Homo sapiens: one gene and its partner. The protein of the gene in region 2 interacts with the protein of the main gene of each other region in a biochemical or structural test. Each region holds a gene or a part of one and is shown on either strand. Other genes may lie near its edges.

Evidence for each region. The genes of interacting proteins can lie anywhere in the genome.
Region 1: the proteins of KCNQ1 (region 2) and KCNE2 form a complex in vitro, tested with the Homo sapiens proteins (one study listed by BioGRID).

What each region holds. Positions count from the first base shown.
Region 1 is NC_000021.9:34,359,698-34,367,019, forward strand, and holds the start of KCNE2 (potassium voltage-gated channel subfamily E member 2), read left to right. Parts: upstream 1-4,308; 5' UTR 4,309-4,454; intron 4,455-7,322. UniProt on the Homo sapiens protein: Ancillary protein that functions as a regulatory subunit of the voltage-gated potassium (Kv) channel complex composed of pore-forming and potassium-conducting alpha subunits and of regulatory beta subunits.
Region 2 is NC_000011.10:2,447,987-2,455,008, forward strand, and holds part of KCNQ1 (potassium voltage-gated channel subfamily KQT member 1), read left to right. Parts: intron 1-7,022. UniProt on the Homo sapiens protein: Pore-forming subunit of the voltage-gated potassium (Kv) channel involved in the regulation of cardiomyocyte excitability and important in normal development and functions of myocardium, inner ear, stomach and colon.

The DNA of each region.
Region 1 (7,322 bases), on a different chromosome or scaffold from region 2:
GATTACAGGTATAAGCCACCATGCCCAGCCTCTTTTCCTTTTAGTGAATTCATTTACTGTATAAATTTGCCTCTAAGGTTCACATTGTCTGCATCCCAGAAGTTTTCAAATATATGGCAGTTCCTTTGTAATTTAATATCTTATTATTTATGTGTTTTCCTCTTTATCCATATGTTACGTGATGATATACTTATTTTTTGGTTTTCAGATATATCAAGGTGTACAGACTATATTTTTGCTGATTTATAATTCAACTGCATTGTAGTAATGGAACCCAGTCTACATAAAGCTGATATTTAAAAATTTGGTTGGACTTCTTTTGTGACCCAGCACATGGTGAGTTTTTAAAACCGTTTTATGGACACTTATAAAGAATGCACATCATTTGTTGGTTAGGTGTGGGTTCTCTCCATCTATTTTATAAAGGTAATTAATTCTATTACTCAATTCTATATGTTTACTTTTTAAAAAAATCTATCAGTTTCTGAAACCTAATTCCTACCATTGTGCATGCCTCAATTTCTTGTAAATCTGCCTGTTTCACTTTGAATATTTTGAGTCCATATACAAGCCCATGATTTTACTATCTTCTTCGCAGGTTGTTTCTTTTATCAAATTGTAGTGACATTTAATATCCTATGGATCACCTGAAATTTCAGTTTTTCTTAGATGTCTGCATTTTAGCCTTAGCTTGATATGTTTTTTCATCACCTTATTTTCAACTTTTTATTTGTTTTTATTTTAGATGTGCATCTTTATTTTGTATTTTATTTTTTGAGACAGAGTCTTGCTGTTTCACCCAGGCTGGAGTGTAGCAGCGTGATCTTGGCTCACTGCAACCTCTGCCTCCCAGGTTCAAGTGATTCTTATGCCTCAGCCTCCCAAGTAGCTGGGATTACAGGCATATGCCACCATGCCTGGCTGATTTTTATATTTTTAGTAGAGATGAGGTTTCGCCATGTTGGCCAGGGTGGTCTCGAACTCTTGGGTTCAAGTGATCCGCCCGTCTCGCCCTCCCGAAGTGCTGGGATTACAGGTGTGAGCCACCAGCCCCAGCCTAGATGTTTATCTTTTAAGAAGCATATAGCTAGATTTTATTTTGTTATTCAGTTTAATAATACTTCTTTTAATAGGTACTTATTTTAAAGGATATTGTGATTATAGATATATTCAGATATTATCTTAGTCATTGGGGCAGTTATAGTAAAAATTATAAACTGGATGACTTATAAATAACAAAAAGTTATTGCTCATAGTTTGGAGGCTGGCAGGTCCAAGACCAAGGCACTGGCAGATGCGGTGTCTGGTGAGGTCTCCCTCTTTGATTCATAGACCGTGCCTTCTAGCTGCGACCTCACATGGTGGAAAGGGGAAGGCAACCTCCCTGTAGCCTCTTTTAAAAGGGCATTAATCGCATTCACGGGGTCTCCATCCTCTTGGCCTAACCACCTCCCAAAAGCCCTACCTTTTAGTAATATCACATGGGGAGTTAGAATTTCACTATATGAATTTTGGGGGGACACAAACATTTATGCCACAGCAGATATCTTTCTACCACCTTATTTGGTGATTTCTGGGTTTTGTTTGTTTGTTTAAGACAGAGTCTCGCTCTGTCGGCCAGGCTGGAGTGCAGTGGCACCATCTCGGCTCAATGCAACCTTCGCCTCCCCGGTTCAAGCGATTCTCCTGCCTCAGCCTCCCAAGTAGCTGGGATTACGGACGTGTGCCACCACGCCTGGCTAATTTTTGTATTTTTAGTAGAGACTGGGTTTCACCATTTTGGCCAGGCTGGTCCCGAACTGCTGAGTTCAGGTGATCCACCCGCCTCGGCCTCCCAAAGTTCTGGGATTACAGGCGTGAGCCACCATGTCCGGCTGGTGATTTCTGTTTAAAAGTTTTTTCTTAAAGTGTTTTTTCCCACCTAGTTTTTCATTGAATGGGTAAAACATTCTACATTTGCTTTTATTAAAACAAGAAATGAATTTTGCTGCATTTCAATTTATAGATTTTACTATCCTACCTCGTGCCAGGTTCTGTGCTAAGTGCTGTATATATCTGTGATCACATTTAACTTTTATAACAAGCCAAATGAGCAGGAACTCTTATCTCTATCTTACAGACGAAGAATCCAAAGACCAGGGACAGTAAGTAATTTGCTCACCTGGTTTGCCAGCCTCCATGACACATCGCCGTCCAGTTCTGCCTTTAATTACCAAAGCACAACACGCTGCTTTGATTCCCCTCTCCTCGGCGCCAGAATTCAAGAGTGAAGTTAAACCGCAAGGGCTGAGTTAGAAGATTGGCCTCAGTTCCCTGTTCCCACCAGCAGGTGGCACCGTCTCCTAGCGGAATTCTTACTTGAACGTTTTGCTTCCATTTCTGCAGAGGCATGGTGAACACAGTTACACCACCAAAGTGTTCCTCCTGGCTGAGTTTGCCTATCTTGTTCAGTGAAGACAACCCATGAGGACAAATGGTGTTAATGAGAAGCTTTTGCGGAGTTACAGAGATCCTCGTATTTCTTTAAAATACACCTAATAACGTTAACTCTGCAATAATTTGTAGATCATGTTAAATCTTAGCTATCTTCCTCTTGCCACCCAGTGTGCTTCAAGCCACATGGTTCAGAGCACCATTTAATGTGAAACTCCAATTTTAAAACAAAGTGAACCTTCCTTTTACAAAACCATGAGACAAGTTACAGAGTAATGACCACCCACATGACCTTGAAGTGATTTTGAGTGAGTGAGTGTAACTTCCGTGGCTGCCATTTAAATTGGATTCAAATCCAAATGGCTCCACCTCCATGTCATCAGACCTCTTGTGCCCTGATTCCCTTGGCTAAGTTCACAGTACCTTCCACATCAGGTTGTGGCAATGATTACCTGAGGTTAATACGATAAAAGCACATGGTAAGCACTCCTAAATGATAGCCAATATAAAGACTCAGTTCTCCCAATTCCAAGGGTCCCCACCATGATAGAAAAGGATCTTTTGGTAAATAGAGTATGTTTAGCTCTTGCTAGGTCTTTAAATACTTTGCTGGGGGCCAGGCACCATGGCTCACACCTGTAATCCCACCGCCTTAGGAGACTGAGGCTGGAGGATCCTTTGCGGCCAAGAGTTTGAGACCAGCCTGGGCAACACAGCAAGACCCTATTTCTACAAAAATAAAAATAAAAATTAACCAGGCTTTGTACACACTTGTAGTCCCATTACTTGGGAGGCTGAGGCAGGAGGATCCCTCAAGCCCAAGAGTTCAAAGCTGTAGTGAGCTATGATTGCGCCACTGCACTCCAGCCTGGGTGACAGAGTAAGACTCTGTTTCAAAACAACAACAACAAACAAAAACCTCAAAACCTCTTTGTTGGACTTAACTTCCAGCTCCTCCATGTAGTACCTTAGTACCCTTGCAGCCCGTTTCTCTTTTACAAGACAACAATGTTGTTATAAACTCATTTGGATGTGGTCCCGTGGAGGAGTATTTACCAGAATCTAGCTTATTTAGCGTCTTCAGAACACGGCACTTGCCTGGAATTATACTGACCCCCTCAACCCATACCAACCACCCAGAGATGGCTGTTCTTGGCTCCTCTCCCTGGGGCCCTGTCCTTCCCACATCGTCTTCTTCTTCTTTCTTCTTCTTTCTTCTTCCTTCTTCTTCCTTCTTCTTCCTTCTTCTTCCTTCTTCTTCCTTCTTCCTCTTCCTCTTCCTCTTCTTCTTTCTTCTTTCATTGAGACAGAGTCTCACTCTGTCACCCAGCCTGGAGTGCCGTGGTATGATTTCAGCTCACTGTAACTTCTGCCTTGTGGATTCAAGTGATTCTCCTGCCTCAGCCTCCAGAGTAGCAGGGACTACAGGTGTGTGCCACCACACCTGGCTAATTTTTACATTTTTAAGTAGAGACGGGGTTTCACCATGTTGGCAAGGCTGGTCTTGAACTCCTGATCTCAGGTGATCTGCCCGCCTCAGCCTCCCAAAGTGCTGGGATTACAGGCGTGAGCCACCCCACCCAGCCCTTCCCACGTATTCTGGCAGGGAATGCTGTTGTCCCCCAAGCCTACCCTAAGAGGAAGACTTCTTCTGGGGAAAGATGTTCACTGTACCCAGGCCCTGCCCTGGCTGGAGCTGGCAGGAAGGGTCCCAGAGCAGGAACTTGTGCCACTCTGCCCAAAGCCAGAGTCCCTGAGGCACACACCCCATCAGGCACCAAGGTGAATTCCAACTGCCAGTTAGTATTTAACTTTCCACATACGATTAGATTAAACATGTGGGTTCATAAAAGCATAGGATTGCAGACTGCAGTTGCAAGGGCTTAGATGGTTGTAAGGTGAAGGTGCCCAGCAGGCTGAGGCTTGTGTGCAACCCAGAAGAGAGCTCGCTAACGCCAGCAAGAAGGTTCAGAACAGCCTGGCTTTGGAAAGGAATTTCATCCTGCCCACACACTGCATAGGTAAGTCTTAGCACACATTCTTTATTTTTTGAGGAATTAAGTAACAAAGTTATCTATGTGCCTTTTCCAGAAAATGATAAAAGGAATGATTTTCCTGGTACATGGCCTGGCTCCTCATCCACTCTTCCTTCTTTCCTTCTTGTGTTTTCCTTACTCATTTCTTTGTTAATTGCCTTAGAATGAAAATTTTGAGAGTTTTTAAAATGGAGGATTCATGGTAAACGTAGGTAATCATATTGTTTTCTCTTCTTGATATAAAAATGAAAGACTTTGCTGCCTTTTATAGGCCCAGGTGATGTGAGCGATCTACCATGTTTCAAGAAAAGAAAACTTTGGGGCTGGGCGCGGTGGCTCACGCCTGTAATCCCAGCACTTTGAGAGGCTGAGGCAGGCGGATCACCTGAGGTCAGGAGATCGAGACCAGCCTGGCCAACATAGTGAAACCCCATCTCTACTAAAAATACAAAAAAAATTAGCCTGGCGTGGTGGCTGGCGCCTGTAGTCCCAGCTACTCAGGAAGCTGAGGCAGGAGAACGGCATGAACCCGGGAGGTGGAGCTTGCAGTGAGCCGAGATCACGCCACTGCACTCCAGCCTGGGCGACAGAGTGAGACTCCATCTCAAAAAAAAAAAAAAGAAAGAAAAGAAAACTCTGGACTTTGGGGTCAAATGAGTGTTACTTTCCTAATAGTGTCCTGATTGCTGTTGTCATGAATAACACACATTCATGACAGGAATGGCTGGAATTAGGGGATCATTCTGTAGCCTGGAGACAGGGCACAACTAATGACATGTGTAAGCTCAAATCATGGTCTTGATCTTATGTCTTGTACCCAGTTGAGCCAACTGGTCACAGCAATGAAAACAGTGAGTTATTGGAATGTGTGACCTCTGCTAGGACAGTCAGTGCTGGACACTGGCTTGGGTGATGTGAGTTCTAGTCCAGGCACTGTGGCCAACTTGAGAGGCTTGTGATCTTGGACAGGTGACTTAAGCCCTCTAGGCTATAGTTATTCCACCTATCAGAGAGCAAACCAGCCTAAATGATCTCCAGGGGCCCAGCCTGTGCTAGGACTCAGCAAGAAGCATTCACTGGAAATGTAGGTCCTCCTAGGTTGATACACATGAATTGCCCATATTTGACCATTTCTAACCTATATAAATGGCTATTTCATATAATTCCAGAGAACATAAATGGTAGTTGTCTTAGCATTACTAAAGTAAATGCCTATTATGATATTCTACTTAGGGGTAGGATAAGTATGTATACCAAATATGGTTTGTTTCGATTTGATTTTTGAGACAGGGTCTCACTGTCACTGCTGAGTGCAGTGGTGTGATCATGGCTTACTGCAGCCTTGACCTCCCAGGTTCAAGCTATCCTCCCACCTCAGCCTCCTGAGTAGCTGGGACTATAGGAGTGTGCCATCACATCCAGCTATTTTTTTATGTTTTGTAGAGGTGGTGTCTCGCTATGTTGTCCAGGCTGATCTCGAACTCCTGGGTTCAAGCGATCCTCCCACCTCGGCCTCCCGAAGTGCTGGGATTACAGGTGTGAACCACTGTGCCTGGCCTCCAAATATGGTTGATGTCTATCAGTCAGTTAAACAGTAATTCTGGGAATAAAAAATTGAAATCAACCCACTTATAATTGGAATGTCTTAGCATAATGTCCTTCAACGAAGCTGCTTTCACACACTGTGATTTGTTTTTTTCCTGTGGTCATGGAGCAGGCATGGGCCACTCGGCCACATCTCATGCATCCGTATTCAAAAGCCAAATCCCTTTTGGATCCTGTTTATTTGGCCTGGCCACGGGTGAGCACTTAGACATTTAATCCCTATAGGCCCTTTCATCCCTGTGATTAAGTCTTATCAAAAAGCACCTCCTGACCGGCTTAGCAGTGGGGCCTTTGTTCACATTAGAAGGGTTGAACAAATAATGGGCAGTTGGGGCTGCTTAGCTCTAAAAGGCTGGTGAACGCTGCCATGCCTGCACCTGGAAACAAACCCAAATGACTCCAGTGGAATTCAGCACTGAAGTCCCTCATCTCAAAGACCTTTTGTGGCAGAGACTCTTGGATGGGCCTTAGGGGTCCCAGGAGTCCCCTGAAATTGAATGTAGAGCTTCCTACGTGCATAGGTATACTTTCTTGGGGAAAAATTAAGTCACATCATTTTATTTTACTTTTCGAGGGATCTTTAACACCGCCCCTCCCCCACCCCCAATTCCCACACCCCTTAAGAATAAATTAAGAATCACTGTTCTGGTAGTTTCCAGTTGAATTCCACAGAGGAACTGTCATTCATTCACACCTTCATTCAACAGATTTTTAGTAAAGATTTGCTACGTACCCATCGCTGTGTAGGGTCCCGGGATTCAGAGATGAGTAAAGCAATCCCTGCCTTCCGGGGGCTCAAGCTCTCCTGTCATCGGGACTCAGTTACTGAATCTCACTAAACATCCTGAAGGTAGGAGTTTATAGAGTGGTTTTGAGGATCACATGAATAAGCACACAATACATGGGTAATTCAAAAACGAAAACAAGGCCGGGCACGGTGGCTCACGCCTGTAATCCCAGCACTTTGGGAGGCCAAGGTGGGCGGATCACGAGGTCAGGAGATCGAGACCATCCTGGCTAACATGGTGAAACCCCGTCTGTACTAAAAATACAAAAAATTAGCCGGGCTTCGTGGCGGGTGCCTGTAGACCCAGCTACTCAGGAGGCTGAGGCAGGAGAATGGCGTAAACCCGGGAGGCAGAGCTTGCAGTAAGCCGAGATCGCGCCACTGCACTCCAGCCTGGGCAAAAGAGACTCCATCTCAAAAAAAAAAAAAAAAAAAAAAAAAAAGGAAAAAAACAAAACTAA
Region 2 (7,022 bases):
CACCTGGGCCACAACTCTTGCCCGCTTAGGCTTCCTGCCCCCAACACCCCCAGTTATCTGTGGTTGCTTGCGCCCCCACTGGGGGCAGCTCCCATCTTAGCTGAGGGGATGGGGGTCCATACAGCCCTGCTGCACCCAGCGGTCCTAGCTCCCTTGCTGTGAGCCTTAGCCAGGGGTGTGGACATCCAGGTGGCATCTACTCTGGTTGCTGAGATGCTTGGAGATCCTGGTTGTGGCCAAGGAGAGGGATTTGAGGGGGGACCTGCAGTGCATGGAGACTGCCCCTGTAGGCTCTCAAACCTAAGTCTGGCTCAGCAGCCCCTGTTCCCCGCTCCTACAGCCTTGGCTTTCCCTGTTTCCCAAGAACTTTCCAGGGGTGTTGGCAGAACCCTCGCGGGTGCGTGTTAATCAACAATGGAGCCAGAAGCAGGTCCCAGAGGTGGATGGGGCTGATCTGGCTGCCTCCCCAAAAGACAAGGCCATGCAGAGCCAGCTCTCAGGGTGCAGCACCCAACTTTGTGGACTCCAGTGCCCTCCTATCTCCAGGCTCTGGCATTGGAGTCTGAAGCAGCTGCTGGGCAGTTGTTCTGCAGCTGGGCAGGGAGGCCAGAGGCCAAGGCAGGTGGTGGGGCTGGGCACAGAGGAGGACGGGGCTCTCTGAGCCATCAGGTCTCTTTCTCTCCATCTTCTTTAAGATCTGTCCACCCACTCCTCAGCCCTAGATTCCCAGGAAAACTGGGAATTCCTTTTGGGGCTTTTCCCAGTGCTACCTTCTGTGGGGCATGAGCCCTTGGTCTCATCCCCTGGCTGTCTGGGGTCCCCTCACCTACATCGCAGACCCGGCCCAGTGTTTCTAGATCCGCTCTTGCCAACATGTCGAGTGCCTAACTGTGGCTTCGTACTAGTTGGGGGGAACACAGGCATCCCTTACCCCTGGCCGTCAGCTGGGGAGGGGGTAGTCCAGGTGGCAAGAGCCTAGAGCCTGGGAGAAAGGGCCTCCCCAGCCTGTGTGGGGACAGGGGATCAGGAGGGTGGTAGGGACTTGGGTCCTTGCAGGTGGCCTGGGCAGTGCCTGGTGGGCATGGATCAGGTGGCAGGGCTTTGTGTCTGGGCATGGCCCTGTGGCTGGGCTGCCTTGGCCAGGGTCCTGGGCCTTCTGAGTCTGCGTCTCATTCTCTGTGGCAGGCTCCTGGTGCTGGCACCTTCAGTGCAGGGTGCCTCGGTTGGAGGGAACATTCACCCGTGCCTGGCACTGAAGCCACAGCTCCCTGTGGGCATGGTGCCCGCAGCTTGAGCCTACAACCCTGGGGTACTGGGGGCAGGAGGGTCCCTTTTTGCTTGGCAGTTGCGAGGTACTGGAACCTTTGCATATAACGTGCGGGCTGCGTTGTGTCACAGGGCCGGGTCTGAGGGAGGGGCTTTGCGGGGACACTCCTGGGTACCGATGGGATGAACTTCCGCTGGGCCTGAAGGCCTGGGATGCTTTTGGGCCGGCCAGTGCGGGGTCAGGTGGTTGGAGCCAGGGAGCTGGCACGTCAGCTGCTGCTATGAGTTCTGCCACGTGCCATCCTGGCATGTGGCACGTCTTGCAGAGGACAGGAAGGGTGAACAGCTCCAAACCCACCCTATGTGTGCTCCAGAGCTGGAAACAGGCTGTGCGGAGCTGAGTGCCTTTGGGGGCAGCTGAGATGGGCAGGAGCACCGTGCCCACCGAGGGTGTCAGAGTGACAGGGGTTGCCAGGCAACTCCACCCGGGTGGCTGATGCCCCCGTTTTTAAAGGCGTTGGGTGCCGAGAATTCCCCTCCTGCTGCTAGGCTGGTTTCAAGTCTGCTCCTTCTGCACTTGACGTCCTTGCCAGTGTGATCCAGAGCTGCTCACACGAGCAAGCGTCCTCGAGTCCTAGGGATGCTGTTAACAGGGCAGCGGGTCCAGGGAGCTGGTCCTGACGCAGGGGTCCTGATGCAGCGGGTCCAGGGAGCTCATGCCTTCCAGCGATGGGAATGCCACCGGTCCCTGTAGCCAAGGTGCAGATGCACACGTCCTGGTCCTGAGCCCCTGCTCGGCCCTAGGCAGGGCCCCCAGTTCCCTGCATTCCACCCGCCTTGTCTGGGAGGTGGACGAGCCCTCCGTAGCCCTGACATTCCAAACTGGCTTTTGGCCCCTGCGATATCTTGCTGTGATTCAAGACTCTGTCCACGGGCAAGAACAACAAGGCTGGGACAATCTCATCTCAGGCATCTGTGGGAGGAGACAGCTCCCAAGGGCGGTGATGCCAGGAGAACATTCCAGGCCCAGGAAGAGCTGAGAGACAGCAGATGCCCAAGACGAGTTGCTGGTGTGTGGCCAGTGCTGGGAGAGCATGGTGTCGGCCCGGGGAGATGCCGCAGAGAAGCTTCCAGAAGCCCAACATCTGCTGCTGGAGGGGAGAATGAGGCAATGAATATCACCATCCTGGGCCACTTTGACCCAGACCCCAAGGATTTGGTTACAGAGGGGAGGGCGGCAGCGTCTGGCTTCACTCTCGGGAGGTGCCTTGGGGCTGGCCAGTATGGGATTGCTGTCACTGTGGGTCACTCCAGCCCCGGATGCTCCTACACCATGCTCTGCTTGCATCTGGGGTCCCTGCGGGCACGTCGGTGAGACCGTCCTGGCCTCCACACCCCTTCCTGGTGGGTAGCTGTCTCTCTCCAGCAGCTCCTCCAACCACCATGAGAAACCCCAGACCTCACAGATGCAAAATTATCGTGGTTGACAAAGGGAGGCGGCTGGTGTCTCTGGTACTGGCTGGGTGACCACAGGGATGCCGCGTGACCCTAGTCCAGGGGGCCGCTTTTACACGAGGCATCTGACCATGTGATAGGGTGTGGCTTCTGCTGCCTGGCCCAGCCCTCTTCTGGGAGCCCCACGTGGGTGGGTGCTGGCTGGGGAGGGGCTTCTCTCTGGGGAGCAGGCCCTGGCTGGAGGTGGGGAAGATCCATGATGGGACCCAGGTGTCTTCCCACTTCTCGACCATCTCCTGGGAAGTTCTAATGTTTGGTTCAGGGTGTGGGGTCCATCTGAGCAGGCATGGTGCTTCCAGAAGGATCCAGGTTAAGGGTGGTGGGTCCAAGGGGGTGCCTGAGCCCTTCTGCAGAAACACCGTTCCCCGTAGAGCAGCAGTCCCCAACCTTTTTAGTACCAGAGACCTGTTTTATGGAAGAAAGATTTTTCCACCCGGGCAGTGGTGATCTTGGGATGAAACTGTTCCATCTCAGATCATCAGGTATTAGATTCTCATAAGAAGCGTGCAACCTAGATCCCTTGTGTGCGCAGTTCACAATAGGATTTGTGCTCCTGTGAGAATCTAATGCCACCGCTGATCCAACAGGAGGTAGAGCTCAGGTGGCCGTGCACATTCACCTGACGCTCACTCACTGCTGTGCGGCCTGCTCCCTAACAGGCCACGGACCCGGGGTTGGAGAACCCTGTCTTAGAGGATTGAGGCTCGGGGCCATGGGATCGGCACTGTCATTGCCCTTGGAGGGTTCTGAGCACTGGAAGGACCTGGCTGTGGTCCCAGGCACTGGGTGGATGGACCAGCAGAAAGGCTCCCAGGAGGGTCGTGGCTCCCTCATCGGCACCGGACTCTCAGGATGAGCCGCCTGGAGTCTGTTGGCATCTGCCTGGCCGCCTCTGGCAGGAACTTCTCCTGATGGAAGAGCCGGGCTGGGGAGCTGACTCCAGGACAGGCCCCTGCCCGCTCTGGGACCTGGGGCCTGGGCTCTGCTCCCCATTTCGCTCCTCCACTCACAGATGAGGACATTTGGGTCGCCTTACAGATGAGACAACTAGGCCTGGCCACTTTGCTCATGCCACACCCAGAAAGCCCTCAGGACACCCAGAAGCCCTTAGGATGCCCAGAAGCCCTTAGGATGCTGTGGTCTCAAGTGAGGTGGTGCACTATTCCTGGCCTCAGGCCCAGTTTGTATCCATGGGCACCCCCACTCCCACCTAGCACTTGCCACCAGGAAGCACCCTGAGGACTGTCCCCTTTGAGAGTTGGCTCTCAAAGCCTTGGTCTGTGCCTGCGTCCTGGCAGCGGGTGAGCTACGGCTGCCCTCACCCAGAGAGTGCAGGTTCCCTGGGGGCGGGGGCTCTTAGCTTTCCCTCCATATCTGCTAAGGTGCACACCTTTCTCTGCTGCCTTCCAAAATCATACTCTGGGGCGCACTGAAAGGGTGCTCTGAGTAGCTCTCCCCGGCTCCTGGCTGAACTTGCTCCAGGCAGAGATTTGAAGAGATTCAGAAAGCAGGAACCACAGGCAGAGCAGCTGGACAGGGACCCCCACCCCTGTACTCCCTTCGGCCCTGGAATGCTCCTCTGCATGGAGACAGCCCAGCTGCACTGGGACCCCTCACCCCACCCTGGGGCCAGGGGCTGTGTCCTCGACTTCCACGCAGAGCAGCCCGGGCAGCTTAGAGGAGGGAGCAGAAGGAGCTCTGACTGAGAGGGGTAGACCCCTCCCAGAGGCATCCCCACCCTGCCCCAAAGAGGGGAGCAGCTGGAGACGGGGCGGGAACCTCCTCTGGCTATATCTAAGCAGCCCCGGGAACCATGCGCTTCAAGCGTTTGATCTTGACGGGCCCTGGGCTTGGCATTCTATTCCGTGACGTCTCCAGCTGTTCTCTTGTGAAGAGTCACGTCTGTGCTCTTGGCTAGGATGGCTCAAATATTATAAAACATACAGCTTTGCTAATTAAAACAGCATGACATTGCCTTATAGGCAGGCAGATCACCAATGGAACAGCTTTTTAAAAACCGCATGTAACTCCATTGTATATGAAGTTTCGTAAAAGAGGCAGCATCTCCAACCAGTGGGGAACAGATGGGCGGCTTCATGCGTGCTGCGGGGTGGGTGGGTGGCCATGTGGAAAGTGACCAGACTGCACCCACTTGTCACATCACACACCAGGATAGACTCCCAGTGGGTCAGAAAACCACTTGGGTACCTAAAGAAAGCGCCTGGAATTCTTTACCCTGAGAGCGAAGAAACTTTTCTATGACTTGAATGCTAGATGCGTGGAGGAGATTTATGTGTTTGACCACATAAGAAAGAAGCAACCTTGGCTGGGTGCGGTGGCTCACGCCTGTAATCCCAGCACTTTGGGAGGCCAAGGCGGGCGGATCACCTTAGGTCGGGAGTTCGAGACCAGCCTGACCAACGTGGTGAAACCCTGTCTCTACTAAAAATACAGAATTAGCCGGGCGTGGTGGTGCATGCCTGTAATCCCAGCTACTTGGGAGGCTGAGGCAGGAGAATCACTTGAACCCGGGAGGTGGAGGTTGCAGTGAGCCGAGATCACGCCGTTGCACTCCAGCCTGGGCAATAAGAGTGAAATTCCATCTCAGGGAAAAAAAAAAATCTTAATGGGAAACAGCCAATTGCCAGGCTGGGGGAAGATGTGATGTTTCACGAAGGGTTAATCTGTTTACTACAGAAAGAGTTTCTGAAAACAGAAGAAAACCCACAGCCAGCAGGAGATGTGAATACCACTCACAGGACAGTGACCCACAGGGGGACCTTGAACATGTGAGAAGGTGCCGCCTTCACTCCTGGCGAGAGGGGTGTCGAGGAAAATGTCACTGAGGTCCCTTCTGGCTGGCAGAAATCCTTTGGCATTTGCTGGTAGGCATGCAAGAGGGTAGACTCTGTGAGGAAGGGATTTGGCAACATCTAGCAAAACTGTCTTCACTGACCTGTGACCCAGCAACCCCCTCCCCAGAACCTACCTGAAGGCACTGGCAAAGGCAGGAGAAGCTGCGTGTGCAGGGCTGCTTGTGAAAGTACTGTTTGGAAAACTGCAAATGCCCATTGTAGGAGACTGGTTGAATCAGAGATTTGTGGAATATTATGCAGCTGTAAAAAAGGAATGCATAGATCTCTCTTATTATGAAGTGATTATCAGGATTTATTTAATTATTTTTTTCAGGCAGGGTCTTGCTGTGTTGGCAAGGGTGGTCTTGAAATCTTGGCCTCAAGCAGTCCTCCCACCTCAGCCTCCCAAAGTGCTTAGATTACAGGTATGAGCCACCACACCTGGCGTATCAGGATGCTTTTTAAGTGAAAAAGCACAGTGAATAAAAATATAGCAGCTATTCTTCATCTGATAAAGGGGAGGATGCAAGTCTGGATGTATATTAAAAACGAAAGCAATGGAAGCCTCCAAATCTTAAAAGTTTACCTCAAAAGGGTGGCGGGGGGGGAGGTGGCATATGGAATCAAGATGCCTCTGAATGTACCTGGTTTTATAGATTTCACTTTGAAGCCATGTAAATCAATAGCTTGCGTAATTTTTAAAAAGCTGTTCGTAATCGCTTGGTGAAAAATCCCTAAATAAATCTTAACCAGAAAAAGTAGTCCCTCAAAATTGAAATGAAACAAATGAGCCTAAAAATGTGTGCTGAATTAGTGGCTTAACCACCCAGAAGGACTGATTTCAGGTGACATATTTCTAGCGGGTTACTGCTGAAGACAAATAGAGCTGCATGCAGTGGCCACATAATTGTTGTGATACTATTTGTTATATTATTCTAAGAGTGCTGCATGGGAATTGCAGGTTAAGGTAAGTAATTGTGTTGGTATCACCAAGAATGGAGGTTTTACAAAATATGATTCACATGTAAACAGAATTAAAAACAAAAACCGTATGATCATCTCAATAGATGTAGAAAAAAACTTTTGATAAAATTCATCATCCCTTCATTAAAAAACCCTCAACAAAAATAGGCATCAAAGGAACATATCTCAATAAGAGCCATCTATGACAAACCCATGGTAAATGTGGTACTGAATGGGTAAAAGCGAGACACATTCCCCTTAAGAATAGGAACAAGACAAGGATGCCCACTTTCACCACTCCTATTCAAAATAATACTGGAGGTCCTAGTCAGAAAAATCAGGCAAGAGAAAGAAATAAAAGGGGATCCAAATAGGAAAAGAGGAACTCAAATCATCTCCCTTCACCGATGATGATAAGATTCT